2 linked regions of the Homo sapiens genome follow. The protein of the gene in region 1 purifies or fractionates together with the protein of each later gene. This does not show direct contact. Each region holds a gene or a part of one and is shown on either strand. Other genes may lie near its edges.

Region 1 (7,027 bases):
TTGTGATCTGCCCACTTAGGCCTTCCTAAAGTGCTGGGATTAAAGGCGTGAGCCACCACACCCGGCCTCTTACATCTTTATTTTGTGGAACTAAAGAATGAATTACATAAACATGAGCATCTTAAATTGTGTTTATTTGTCACCTTAAAGCATCAAGTACGCAATGGCTCCTAAGTAACTTTAAAGCAAGTAAACCCACTTCAAGTAATTAAAGGAAAATGTCTCTTGGTTAGAAGACGACTATGCTTCTCAAATGATTAAAAAAAACGTCTTAAGAGATCATTCTGGGATGAGACCAAGTCCACTCTCCAAAGGTTAGTACACTATAATTTCTTCTAATATTCATGGCAGTTCCAAACAGTGTGACAGCCCTACTGACTTCACAACTCATAACCCAGGTCTCCTTAATTCTCATTCCCAAACCAACTTTCCAACCTATTCATTCATTTTCAAGGACCTAAAATCTAGAAAAGTGTTAAACTTATTTTCCAGGGCTTAGAGTGTACTATGAAAACCATTAACAAAACTATACTTATATCCCTAAATCTGTAAAAATTTAATAAACAATAATTTTTAAACCATTACCACAATAAAAAGCAAACAAGCTGCATTTTTTTTTTTTTTTTTAAAGACAGGGTCTTGCTCTGTCACTTAGGATGGACTGCAGTGACGTGATCACAGCTCACTGTAGCCTTGGACTCCTGGGCTGAAGAGATCTCCTGCCTCAACCTCCCAAGTAGCTAGGACTACAGGCATGTGCCACCACGCCCAGCTAATTTTTTGTAGAGACAGTCTTACTATATTGCCCAGGCTGGTCTTGAACTCCTGGCTTCAAGCAATCTTCCTGCCTTGGCCTCTCAAAGCACTGGGATTACAAGCATGAGCCACCGCAACCAGCCTGAACTCATGTCATTGTGATGTAGACAGACATGTCTGATTTATAAACACAATTTCTATTTGACACAACTGGAATTATATCACTCATACTTCTATTAAAGGGTATTGAGGTATACTAATTTTCATTATACAATGTTGATTGTTTCACGTATGCTAACGTTTATTACTTTCAGAAATTTTTTAAAATTAACAAAAGCAATGTTTCAGTACTTGACCCACTCTCCAGCACACAGTAAATGTTCAATAAAGGTTACTATTGTAACTGTACTACTACAAAGGACACAAAGCATTCAACTACTTACTAAGCAATAAAAACAAATGTACGAACTAGATAAATGTAAGTAGACTTAAGACTTTTTAAAGCTCTAGTTTGTTCAGATTTTAACAACGGTCTTACAGGTTTGTGAGAAAAAAATATACATATCTTTTTTTTTTTTTGAGACAGGGTCTCACTGTGTCGCCAAGGCTGGAGCGCAGTGGCACGATCTCCGCTGACTGCAACCTCTGCCTCCCAGGCTCAAGCGATTCTCTTCCCTCAGCCTCCCCCCAAGTGGCTAGGATCACAGGCGCTTGCCACCACACCTGGCCAATTTTTTTTTTTTGTAGGGATGTGGGTTCGCAATGTTGCCAAAGTTGGTCTGAAACTCCTGAGCTCAAGCGATCTGGCTGCCTCGGCCTCCCAAAGTGCTGGGATTACAGGCACAAGCCACTGCACCTGGCCAAAAATCTACCTTTAAAACAGTGACACAATGAAAGAAATCTATACCTACGGCAAATGTGGTATATAACTTGGTATCGTAAATGTAATGTATCTATGTATCTAAATTAAAGGTATCCAAGAGAATAGATTTCAGAATAACTGCTGAAATTCTAAACTCCTTAAAGGTAGTTGCATATAGTAACAAATAACAAATTCAAGAGTGACTATTGTGTTTGTTAGAAAACAATACCTTTTTTCCATACCTGTGACAAGAGCTAGGCGTTCCACACCTGCAAAATCTGCATGCTCAATAGCCATGACACCAGCAGCACCAAAGAGCTGTTCAGGATAATTATAAATTAATTGCCTGTAAATAAAATACATGAAAACATTATGCTCACAACTGTTACAAGATAAACTACATTAGACTAAAAAACATGTAAACATTTTTACCACAAGTAAAAGAAATGCAAATTAGAACAAGATTGCATTTCTTACCTATATAATTAGAGTTTATCAACTATAGTACTAATGCATCCATTACTAGTATTGAAAAGAAGTGTTCTTTATTATAGTAACTGTATAAATCAATCCCGTAATTCTGGTCACTGTAAGTGTGCATAAATCACAATTTACTGATTACAAAAATCCATAATTTAAGTGAAGTTATCTAAGACAGTTCCTAGGTAAAAAATCTAATTCAATATAAGTAAATATGAAGTATTCCATAAACTTTCATGGAAAAAAATCCTTTCTTAAAAGCAAACACAGACCTGTTAATAAAGCAATTTATTCCATGCTTAAGAATACGTTCAACTTTCTCCTTCATTTTTTCCTTTTCCGCATGTTCTATTTCTGCAACCTTTGCTGTAGAGTCAACTCTTACCCGGGAACCAAATATCTAAGACAAACGAAGCATAAAGAGAGCATCAGTTTCATTATTTTTTTTGAGATTGAGTCTCGCTCTGTTGCCCAGGCTGGAGTGCAGTGGGGCAATCTCGGCTCACTGCAACCTCCACCCGCTGGGTTCAAGTGATTCTCCTGCCTCAGCCTTCCAAGCAGCTGGGATTACAGGTGTGCGCCACCACACCCAGCTAATTTTTGTATTTTTAGTAAAGACAGGGTTTCACCATCTCACATTGGTCAGTCTGGCCTTGAACTCCTGACCTTGTGATCCGCCCGCCTGGCCTCCCAAAGTACTGGGATTACAGGCGTGAACCACCACGCCAGGCCTCATTACTCTTTTTAAAGAGTCCCATAGCATATTTCAACATTTTTACCAACGTATATATATGTGTATATACACAATAGATTCATACCTATTCCAAGCTTTTTAGTGCAATTGATTCCTGAGTTTATAGAATCCAGCAATTTTTTTTTTTTTGAGACTTTTGAGACGGAGTTTCACTCTTGTTGCCCAGGCTCGAGTGCAGTAGCACAATCTCGGCTCAGTGCAACCTCCGCCTCCTGGGTTCAAGTGATTCTCCTGCCTCAGCCTCCCGAATAGCTGGGATTACAGGCATGCGCCACCATGCCCAGCTAATTTTGTATTTTTTTTTTTTTAGTAGAGACAGGGTTTCTCCATGTTGGTCAGGCTGGTCTCAAACTTCTGATCTCAGATGATCCACCACCTTGGCCTCCCAAATTGCTAGGATTACAGGCATGAGCCACTCTGCCTGGGCAGTAATTTTAATTTTTAAAAAGTAGAGTTACATACCTTTATTTTGTCTGTATCCATACCAGTATTTGCAATAAGAATTTTAGCATTTTCAATTCGTTTTGGTTGATTTACTCCAATTTTTTTATCCAACAGGAAGCCTACAATAAATATAAGAACAGTATCATATTTAATACTTCAAAGCAGCCTTAGTAAATCTTATAAAAAGCTGTCTGCTTTATCATATCACTGTTTCAAAGAAGCTATTTAAGTCCAATTTACCAAGCTCTTAGAAGGCATAAAAGCAAGCTTGTCCAACCTGCCTTATTCTGTTGTTGTTTTGCTTTTAGGCTTTTAGCGCCTGAAAGCCATGGATTTTAGTTTCTGTCTCTAGTGATAAGCAGAAAAGAGGGAGGAGGAAGGGGCTTTACCGACCCAACCAGAAACAGAAACTAGGAACCCATGACTGTATTCTCTTCCTTGGACACTTCTGGTATAAAGCATCCCACTAGAAGAGTTATTACAAAATCAATTTAATGGGTTACTTAAAAAATATGAAACAGAAAATATAAGAGCACAGTACAGACAATAAAATTAAACAGTATTTTGAAACTTTTGTTTCAGATATACGCTACACCCACATCTGTATGGGTTGCAATATAAAGACAATAGGTTAAGTCCTATATTTTTATTAGCTTAAAATCACCACCACAAGAGAAAAATTGAAGATTCAGGTATTGAGGCTGGTGGTAAAAATGGAAAAACCATGGACACCGTGGAGTCAGATAAATCTGACCCTGATCATGCCCCTGCTGCTGGCTATATAACCTTCGACAAATTATCCAACCAGAAATGCTAATTTGTAAAACAGGAATGTAACCAGTAGCAGAGGTGCTAGTTACCAGCCTAGTCCTGCTGCTTTGGAACCATCATACAAACCCAGTACCACCTACCTTTCTAGGCCTTTTTTTGGTTACATTAGAAACTTTTCCATTATGAAGCCACCATTATCTTGGGTTTTCTACTCTATTCAAGTGAACCTAATCCTCACTCACCAGGTCATGATGACTAAATGACTAAAGTTCCTATTACAATTCCTAGTACAGAGCAGACATTCAAGAATGGTGCTGCTTGTGCTACTAATATTCTTGTTTTAATGCTCCTTCCCTACCACCAGCCCCTATCAGAAATGCTACGCAGCGGCCAGGCATGGTGGCTCACGCCTGTAATCCCAGTACTTTGGGAGGCTGAGGCAGGTGGATCCCCTTAGGTCAGGAGTTCGAGACCAGCCTGGTCAACATGGCGATACCCCGTCTCTACTAAAAATACAAAAAAGTTAGCCAGGCATGGTGGCACACGCCTGTAATCCCACCTACTCAGGAGGCTGAGGCAGGAGAATCGCCTTAACTCAGGAGGCAGTGGTTGCAGTGAGGCGAGATCATACTGCTGCACTCCAGCCTGGGTGACACAGCCAGACTCCGTCTCAAAAAAAAAAAAAAAGAAATGCTACACAGCTCTTGTATATAAACTTAATCAAGAGTATTTTCAGAATTATGACTCTCTCTTAAAATAAATCAAGACCTATGACACAGAACAAAACCAGGACTCCAAACCACTGGTAAAAACAGAAGTTGTAAAGCACCATCTAATTCTTTTTTTTTCCTTCTCTATATAAGAATGCCTATACTTTTTGACAGGCCATTTTGTGAAGTAAATATAATGTGAAGATGATCTGGAAAACTTCACTCTAAACAAAAATGTACTACTAAGAAAGCAGTACTTATTATGTCTCATTTATCACTCTTTAAGAACTAGATCCTCTTGCCCTATAAACATACATAATTATTTGTTAAAGAAATTTTTTTTAATTCTTTTCTAAAAAAAACTAGTCATCCCCCAGTATACGAAGGGGACTGGTTCCAAGACGCCCACATACACCAAAATCCCCACATACTTAAGTTCCAGGCTGACTGGAACCAGCAGATTTGAAAAGCTGGCCCACTATATACATGGGTTTCAAATCCTGCAAATACTGCATTTTCCATCCACGTTCGGTTGCACATGTGCAAACCACGGACACAAAGGGCTGACTATATTTATTGAAAAAACCTGCATTGTGAACCTACATAATTCAAACCCATGTTGTTCAATGGTCAACTGTACATCCTCAACAACCAGCTAACACAATGATTTGACTGACCCAGACCCTTCCTGGAGAATACATATAATCCTGGTAAAAGTACCATTTGAGAATAGATGATTTCTAGTAAAAGAAAACATTTCCTCTTTATCAGAGACTGCAAATAACTTCATGGTAGTTAAGTAAACTCTAGAGATCATCAACAATGCTGGAATAGCGCGGGAAGAGGAGTACACTGTCAATAAAATGACAAAAATGGTTGCACATATGATATGTCCTTAAATTCAAGTTCACTGGCTTTGTAAAGGGTCACTGGTCTCAAAACAGAATTCACTCAGTATTCAGCCCTCAGCATCTAATCAAAGCTTCTTGTATCTGACATTCATACATACCTTCATCTAAATAGGAATCTGCCAAACTTCCTCCTAGCTTCTTGATAATATGAATTGCCTCCAGGTTGCCAGAGCCTTTCAGTCTGAGAACTGCTTCTACAGCTAACTTTGTAAAGTGGTCTTTGTGATGAGTAAGAAGTTTTGAGGATAATGTTGTGCCCGCAATATTCATTAAATCTTGACGGAATTTAACTTCATCGGAACTAAATAAAACCAACCAAATATACATATTAACCCTACTTTACTTTTCAAAATTTATCTAGATATTCATGTCAATAGATAATTTTACCCTAACTGATCAAGTCTGTAAGCTATATGAAAAGAATTAAACCTCAGCAGTAATCAAGAAACACAAATTAAAGATGTTATTTTCCCCACCAAACTGGCAAAATGCCAAAAAAAAAAGAGGGGTGGGGGCCACACAAGCATGCAAAAGTCTAATGTTGGCAAGAATGTGAGAAATGGCCGGGCACAGTGGCTCACGCCTGTAATCCTAGCACTTTGGGAGACTGAGGAGGATGGATCACTTGAGGTCAGTTCAAGACCAGCCTGAGCAACATGGTGAAACCCCATCTACACTAAAAATACAAAATTAGCTGGCTATGATGGCACATGCCTGTAGTCCCTGCTACTTGGGAGGCTGAGGCAAGAGAATCGCTTGAACCCGGGAGGCAGAGGTTGCAGTCAGCCGAAGTCGTGCCACTGCACTCCATTCTGGGCAACTCTAAGAGCGAGACTCCGTCTCAAAATAAATAAATAAATAAAAGGACGTGAAAAACAAGTATTATTATACAGTTGTGAATGGGCAAATAAATAGAAGTGCCTTAAAACAGTGGTCCCGGACCTTTTTGGCACCAGGGACTGGTTTCATGGGAAGACAATTTTTCCACCTGCTGCTCACCTGCTGTGCAGCCCAGGTTTGGGGGTGCCTTAAAACACACACACTTACCTTTGGACCCAACAATTACACTTCTAGAAACCTTTGGGCTATGTCGCAACGTCACAAAGTTATTTTATAATGCTAAAAATCATCAAATACACAAATCTCCCCCTACAGATAGGTTAATACAGTCATTCTAGCCAAATATTCAAATGTGTAACTCTATTAAAATACTGCACAGAAAATTGACATCCAAAAATGTGCTTAATATTTAACTAGGTTAAAAAGAGGCTAACAAATTCTCTATACAGTATTATACTATTTGCTTTATTTGTATATTTTGATGATATATACAAAAAGA
Region 2 (7,027 bases), on another chromosome or scaffold:
TTTTAAATGCACTCCAGACAAGCCCTGACCAGTGCCAATGGGGGTATTATTAGAAAAGGCATGCATACATTAACATATTTCCACCTCTGTTTGAGAGGGGACATTGAAATTAGGCTGACAAATGTCCACTAATTAGGCAGAGGCATTTTGTTACATCAGAACACATAAAACTGGTTATTCCATTAGGTCTTCCACTCATTTGACAGTTATAAAATGCACAGACAAATGAAGCACTGGAATTATTTTTTGTATTTTTACTAAATTTAGTATAATTCAGTAAGAATATTTTTGCAAAGTAGCTCATCTACTAACCAAAGAGGCTAGAATGGAGCCGCCAATCCATGAGCTAAACCTCCGTTCCACTGTTGTATTATTTGCAATCAATTTCAACCGCATACTCTGAAATAGAAGAATATGCATTAGTACAATCAAATCTTGTGACTCAACTTAGAAAATTCTTTTTTTTTTTTTTTTTTTCAAATAGAGACAGGGTCTTCCTCGCCATATTGTCCAGGCTGGTCTTCACATTTGCACTCAAGCAATCGGCCCATCTCAGCCTCCCAAAGTGCTGGGATTACATGCATGAGCCACTTGCACCCAGCCAGGAAATTCAATTTTGACAGACTTCATAATGGCTCCCTGTGGTTCAAACACTGATTAAAATACGGTAATTTTGAAATAGCCAAGATAACAAGCATAGGTTAGACTAATGTACAGACTTTTAAAAGTACTTTGATTATGGCTTTTAACATGCGATTATATGATGAGAAAACATACAAACTTTAAAAAGCTGCATACTGAAGTATAGCATTCACAATTTCTATCCTAAAATAGCAAATCCACACCTAACACTATAAATCTGGTGCTGTGCTAAGTCTTTATTATTTCATTTCATCCAACACCAACCTAATTATCATCCCAATCTGTCTCCCTTTCTGTAGTCCTCCCCAACCTTCTAACTGCTTCCTTTCTAGGCTTTCATGCTATCCTAATCCCTCCTTAGTTCACCCCAACCCTTCTAAATAAAAACACAACCATCAGATATCAGGTTAGTTTTTTATTCATACTATTTCCTTCCAAATTAGTGCTTCTGTTCTGACTCTCATTTTCTCTTGATAACACAATTTTATTGCACAGTACTATCCCCTATATCTCACTTCCTATATGAAGAGGTTTTTTTCTTTCTCTTACCAAGGAATCTGCCTCTGGGGACAGTTCTCAAGTTGTTGACATCTTCCTATTATTCTATAAATGAACATATTTTTGGGGCTTTTCAAAGTGAAATAAGTATGTGTGCAGCAAGGGTGGGTAGAGTATGGGATATGGGTGGGTAGAAGGTACTGGGGATAGGGTAAACATGGGTTTTTGTAGGTAAGAAAGATTGGTAACTATTAAATAGAATTTTTTTCCTGTTCTTTCAGAGATTGTTATCACCTCCTAAAGGACAAGGATAGTTTCTAACTGGCCTTGACCACAGCTTGGGCCATGCTTATCTGTATTCATTATTCAGGGACTTTCTATGAAATCTAATCATTAGTATTATAGACCGGTGCAGTGGCTCACGCCTATAATCCCAGCACTTTGGGAGGCCGAGGCGGGTGGATCACCTGAGGTCGGGAGTTTGAGATCAGCCTGACCAGCACGGAGAAACTGCATCTCTACTAAAAATAAAAAATTAGCCGGGTGTGGTGGAACATGCCTGTAATCCCAGCTACTTGGGAAGCTGAGGTAGGAGAATCACTTGAACCCAGGAGGCGGAGGTTACAGTGAGCTGATATCGTGCCACTGCACTCCAGCCTAGGGGACAAGAGCAAGACTCCATCTCAAGTAAATAAATAAATAAATAAATCTCCAATCAATCAATCAATCTAATGATTAGTATTATAATTCAGGTATGCTCTAGATCTCCAAGAATTTAGAAAATACAAGGCAGATGTCAACTGTGTGCCTATATATTTAGATATCACTTTTAATAATAGAAATGTGGCACACGTAAAACATTATTTTATATGGGAAGCTAAAAGACTATTAAATATACAGATTTATAGATATTGTTAGGGCATATGTAACCACTAATAAGGTTTTTTAAATGTAATCTTCAGTGCAGAACACCTTACAAAAAAAGCACTTGAAGTTTTGTTGTTGTTGTTTTTTTTTCCTGAGCCAGAGTCTTGCTTTGTCACCCAGACTGGAATGCAGTGGCATGATCTCGGCTTACTGCAACCTCCGCCTCCTGGGTTCAAGCGATTCTGCTGTCTCAGCCTCCCAAGTAGCTGGGATTACAGGCACGTGCCACCGTGTCCGGCTAATTTTTGTTATTTTTTTTTTTTTTTGAGATGGAGTCTTGCTCTGTTGGAATGCAGTGGTGTGATCTCAGTTCACTGCAACCTCCACCTCCCGGGTTCAAGCAATTCTCCTGCCTCAGCCTCCCGAGTAGCTGGAATTAAGAGGCTCCCGCCACCAGGCCCAGCTAATTTTTGTATTCTTAGTAGAGATGGGGTTTCACCATGTTGGCCAGGCTGGTCTCCCTGACCTCATAATCCATCTGCCTCGGCCTCCCAAAGTGCTGGGATTATAGGCGTGAGCCACCACGCCCAGCTGATAGAAATTTTAAAGTTAAAAGATTATAACTGTCATTCTGTTACCGAAGTACTATATAAATTACCTTCTCAAACCGAGTTTTTCTATTCTTTTAAAAGTTATTATAATATACCCACTGATCTTTTTAAAACAAACATGAGCTCATCAGTCCACTGCTAGATTTTATCCTGTGAAGAAGGAGGTATTTTCCCCTAGAGATTCAGCATAGCTCCACTGACACCTTGAGGCTTCTAGCCTCAAGAACTATAAGACAACAAATTTCTGTTGTTTGAAGCCACTAACATGTACTTTGTTACGGCAGCTCTAGGAAACTAATCCATCTTTCTAGCCATATTGCTTTCCCCACTTACGTAAAGACTAGAAGCCAACTACTTTGAATTACTGGAACATACCTGTCTTCTCTTAGTATTTTTGTAAATGGTTTTATTCCCTCCATCTAGATATCCTTTCATAAATTAGCAATGAGTTGAACTATTCATTCAAACTATAGCTTCTTCAGGAGGCTATCCTCTGATACTCCTAGAGAGTTAAGTAGTGGCTTCTTGGTGTTCCCAACAGCACCTCGTTCATGACATACTGAATTGTTGAGCATGTTACAGTCATCATTTTCTGCATGTCTAACCATCCTAGTAGACTGAGCCCTTGGTGTGCAGGGACTAGTGCCTAGCAGACTATACATATTTAAATATTAATAAATGAGATTCAAATAATTTAAGAGAAACTAATAGATGTCAACTAGGAAAACGATTAAAGGATATTAACTTTAGTGATACTATACCAGGCACACACAAAATATCATGTATCTATTGAAAAATGGACGCTTATCTACAAAATTACACCATCAGTGAGGAAATATATGACTGAAGAATACCATTAAAGAACAAACAGAACTTACTGGAGGAGTTTTCTGAGACAGCTCTCTATTCAACCTGTCAGTAAAACTCTGTATTAGTGTGTTTCCTCCTGCCACTATTACACTGCCATAGAGACCCTAGGATAAAAATACAAGAAAAATCAATTAGTTCCATATGTTTCCAAAAGTTTTAAATACAACTACAAATATAACCATGTGCTCTACTACAATTTCCCTTTCGTTTTTTGGAAATGTTTTACTATTATATAGAACTAATAGCTTAATCCATCAATTCTCCATCCTGGCTGTACATTCAACTCATCTAAGGAGCTTTTAAAACACAAATTCCTAGGGGCAATTAAATAAAAATGTCTGGGGATGGGATCCAGGCAAGGTTACTTTTAGAGACGGGGTCTCGTTATATTGCCTACATTGGAATGCAGTGGCTATTCACGGGCACAGGCATAGCGTACCACAGCCTCAAACTCCTGGGTTCAAACAATCCTGCCTCAGGCTCCCAAGTAGCTGGGACTACATGCCACTGTACCTGGCAGGCATGGTTTTTAACTCCCAAGATTATTTTAATGTGTACAAAGTTTTAAGAACCACTAACTTAAAGGAATCATTCTAAAAATCATAATTTTTTTTTGGCAGATAGCTGCCAATATTTAATTAGAAGTACATTTTATAATGACTTTATCTTAGAATGCTCATCTGGAAATATTAATAGCAACCACCAGCCAAAAATTAAAATTACAAATATTTTGAAAAAGAATGCTTATCTGTAAGTTAGGATATTCAAAGAATGCTCATCTGGAAATATTAATTGCAACCACCAGCCAAAAATTAAAATTACAAATATTTTGAAAAAGAATGCTTATCTGTAAGTTAGGATATTCAAAATTAGACAATTATTTTATGATTATGACAGACAATGATAAACTCTGAACATATTCCTCGCCAAAATTATTGCTACTTTTCTCTTTTGCAGAGGTAAGCATCAGAAGCACATGGGAGCTTTTCCAAAACACATATGCTAAGCCCTTCCCAAATAAAAATAAATTACTACTTATAAGCAGTGTATTTACTTTGAATTTGCATGTATGCATCAGAAAGTTAAATGTCAAACTGTTTTAGTGGGTAAGTTCCTATTTTTAAAACATACTTCAAATGTCTAAATCATCTAAATTTTGAAGTAGAAAATGGAATGCAAAAGTATCTCATTAGTTAAAAGGAGAAACTTCACTAAAAACAGTTATCACTGTTGCAATAAATATACTTCAATTCAATTACCTTCCCCGAAAGGTGGAATTGTATTTGCGCTAAAAAAATCCCAAACTTATACTACTATTGTCCTAGAAACATCACATGCCTACTAGGTTACCAGGTGAAATAAAGGTAAAATAAAGTATGATTTTCATAGCCACTCAAAGCCTTTTTTGAATAACATAGTAGTTATTAGCACTATGCTTTAAGCAAATTAATTTACTCAAAATCTAGGCAGTATGTGGGTGATAAGCTGAATTGGGTTTAAATAAGATAAAGTAAGTCCTCATTTAATGTCATCAATATGACCTTGGAAACTGACTTTCAGCAAAATGTCATGTAACAAAACCAATTTTTTTCCTGAAACAATGTCCTTCAAGGACCTACTGTACATCGTTTCAGTTAAAGTTGCAGTCTCCAAGAACCTATCACTGATAATGAGTGAAGTATATAATATGGAGTTAGTATTTAAAACCTGACAAAGCACAAAAAATATGAAGAGCATTTAAAATAAACTTCATGTAAAAGTTACTCATATAATTTAAACCACGCCTTCCTGAAAAATAAAAGTAGAAGTTGTGCTATCTGTAAGAAAATCACCAACAATACATATTTTGGTTTGCCACATTTCAGGAAATCTCTAGCGCAGTCTACAATAACTTTCTGTGATGATGCAAATGTTCTATATCTGCGCTGTCTGATGCAGCCACTAGCCACATTTATAATGAGGCTACTACAACTGAAGAATTGAGTTTTATGTTTTTATCTATTTTAAATTTAAATTGCCACATGTGGCGGGTAGCTACAAAACTGGACACCATAGCTCTAGAGTTTCACATTTTTCCTTTTCTAGTACTTCATCTTTTTACATATACTGTTATAAAATGAACCTCAAAGTCAATGACACTGACAACCATTAGATCACTGTCAACCTAACAATGATTTGGGGACATTTCAGTCCCCTAAAAGATACCTTTAAACCGTAACAGGAGACTGGCACTTACTGGTCTGATGTCAATATCACACATCCCAACACTTGTGGTGACAACATGACTGACTCCTAACATTGTGTTTCCTGATAACCCCTACAACAAAAGAAAACAAGTAGTCACATGGAAGCTCTTCATACAGTAAAGCATATCCAAAACATTTTAGCCACAAAAGCTCTTTACCTATATAGGAAAAGCCAGGCTAATTATGAAATAAGCTTTTATACCTTTACATTGGAAGGGTCAAATAATCCTTCTGGAATCTTTAGCCGCTCTGCACCAAAATCACAATTGTAGCCATTGGGGAATTCATAATGAACAGTTGGCATCTGTGCAGCCACTCTGAAAACATATTAAACCGTATTACACAAAAGACAAAAAATAATTCTCTTCAAAATTATAAACTACTAGGGAATTATAAACTTGTAAAAAAAAAAAAGGGAGTGAGAATATTTTAAACATTATTCAATTAAGTATTTTTTAAACAAATCCTTTCCTCATTTATAAAGTATACATTTTAATAAGAAAACATACTGTTCATCATAAGTTGAATCTGACACTTGAAGTACCGAAGCTTGAAAATCCTGGATAACACACTGTGAGTAAAAGAAAAAAGTAACAAACAAGGTTGAGATTTATCTTTGTAATCTATACTTTTATAACATATTTTAAATACTTTTCTGAATGAAATTGGACCATGTTTCTAGATGGGTAAATCATTTCAAGAGTATAAATGTACCTAACAAGGATTCTGAGTATCAAGAAACCTAATTCTAATCATTTGCATTAGAAGTTAATTACACACATTTAAGTTACAACAGTTATGAAATGAGAGATAAATAACTGCAGGTGCAGGAACCCCTGCACCACAGTTCTGCATAACAAAACCAATTTCAGAACACCACTTTCTCCTTAAAAATAAGCTAGATTAGAAGCAAGATTTCATTACCTACATATACACATGTGCATGTACATCACATTTTATGCAACTTTTAATGACTGTACATAGTATAAAACAGTTTAATAAAATGTTGTGAACTAACACGACCTCTAGAAAAATCTTGTCTAATATCTAGGAAAAATGACTAATCATCCTAATTTTTCCTCGTATATTACATGTGCACACAGACAAAATCTTTATCTTTAGGTGCAAAAACTGTCAGAGCTGGATGCAGTGGCTCATACCTGTAATCTCAGCACTTTAAGAGGCCGAGACAGGAGGATCGCTTGAGGCCAGGAGTTCAAGACCAGCCTGGGCAACATAGCGAGACACTGTCTCTATAAAAATAAAAAATTAGCCAGGCATGGTGGCATGCAC

What was found. The genes of interacting proteins can lie anywhere in the genome.
Region 2: the proteins of CCT2 (region 1) and ACTL6A purify together in Homo sapiens (affinity purification with mass spectrometry; 4 studies listed by BioGRID and IntAct, with this or other methods). This does not show direct contact.

Annotation. Positions count from the first base shown.
Region 1 is NC_000012.12:69,588,447-69,595,473, reverse strand, and holds part of CCT2 (T-complex protein 1 subunit beta), read right to left. Parts: intron 5,990-7,027; coding exon 5,787-5,989; intron 3,416-5,786; coding exon 3,315-3,415; intron 2,499-3,314; coding exon 2,371-2,498; intron 1,965-2,370; coding exon 1,861-1,964; intron 1-1,860. UniProt on the Homo sapiens protein: Component of the chaperonin-containing T-complex (TRiC), a molecular chaperone complex that assists the folding of actin, tubulin and other proteins upon ATP hydrolysis.
Region 2 is NC_000003.12:179,579,918-179,586,944, reverse strand, and holds part of ACTL6A (actin-like protein 6A), read right to left. Parts: intron 6,306-7,027; coding exon 6,244-6,305; intron 6,052-6,243; coding exon 5,937-6,051; intron 5,806-5,936; coding exon 5,725-5,805; intron 3,593-5,724; coding exon 3,497-3,592; intron 400-3,496; coding exon 313-399; intron 1-312.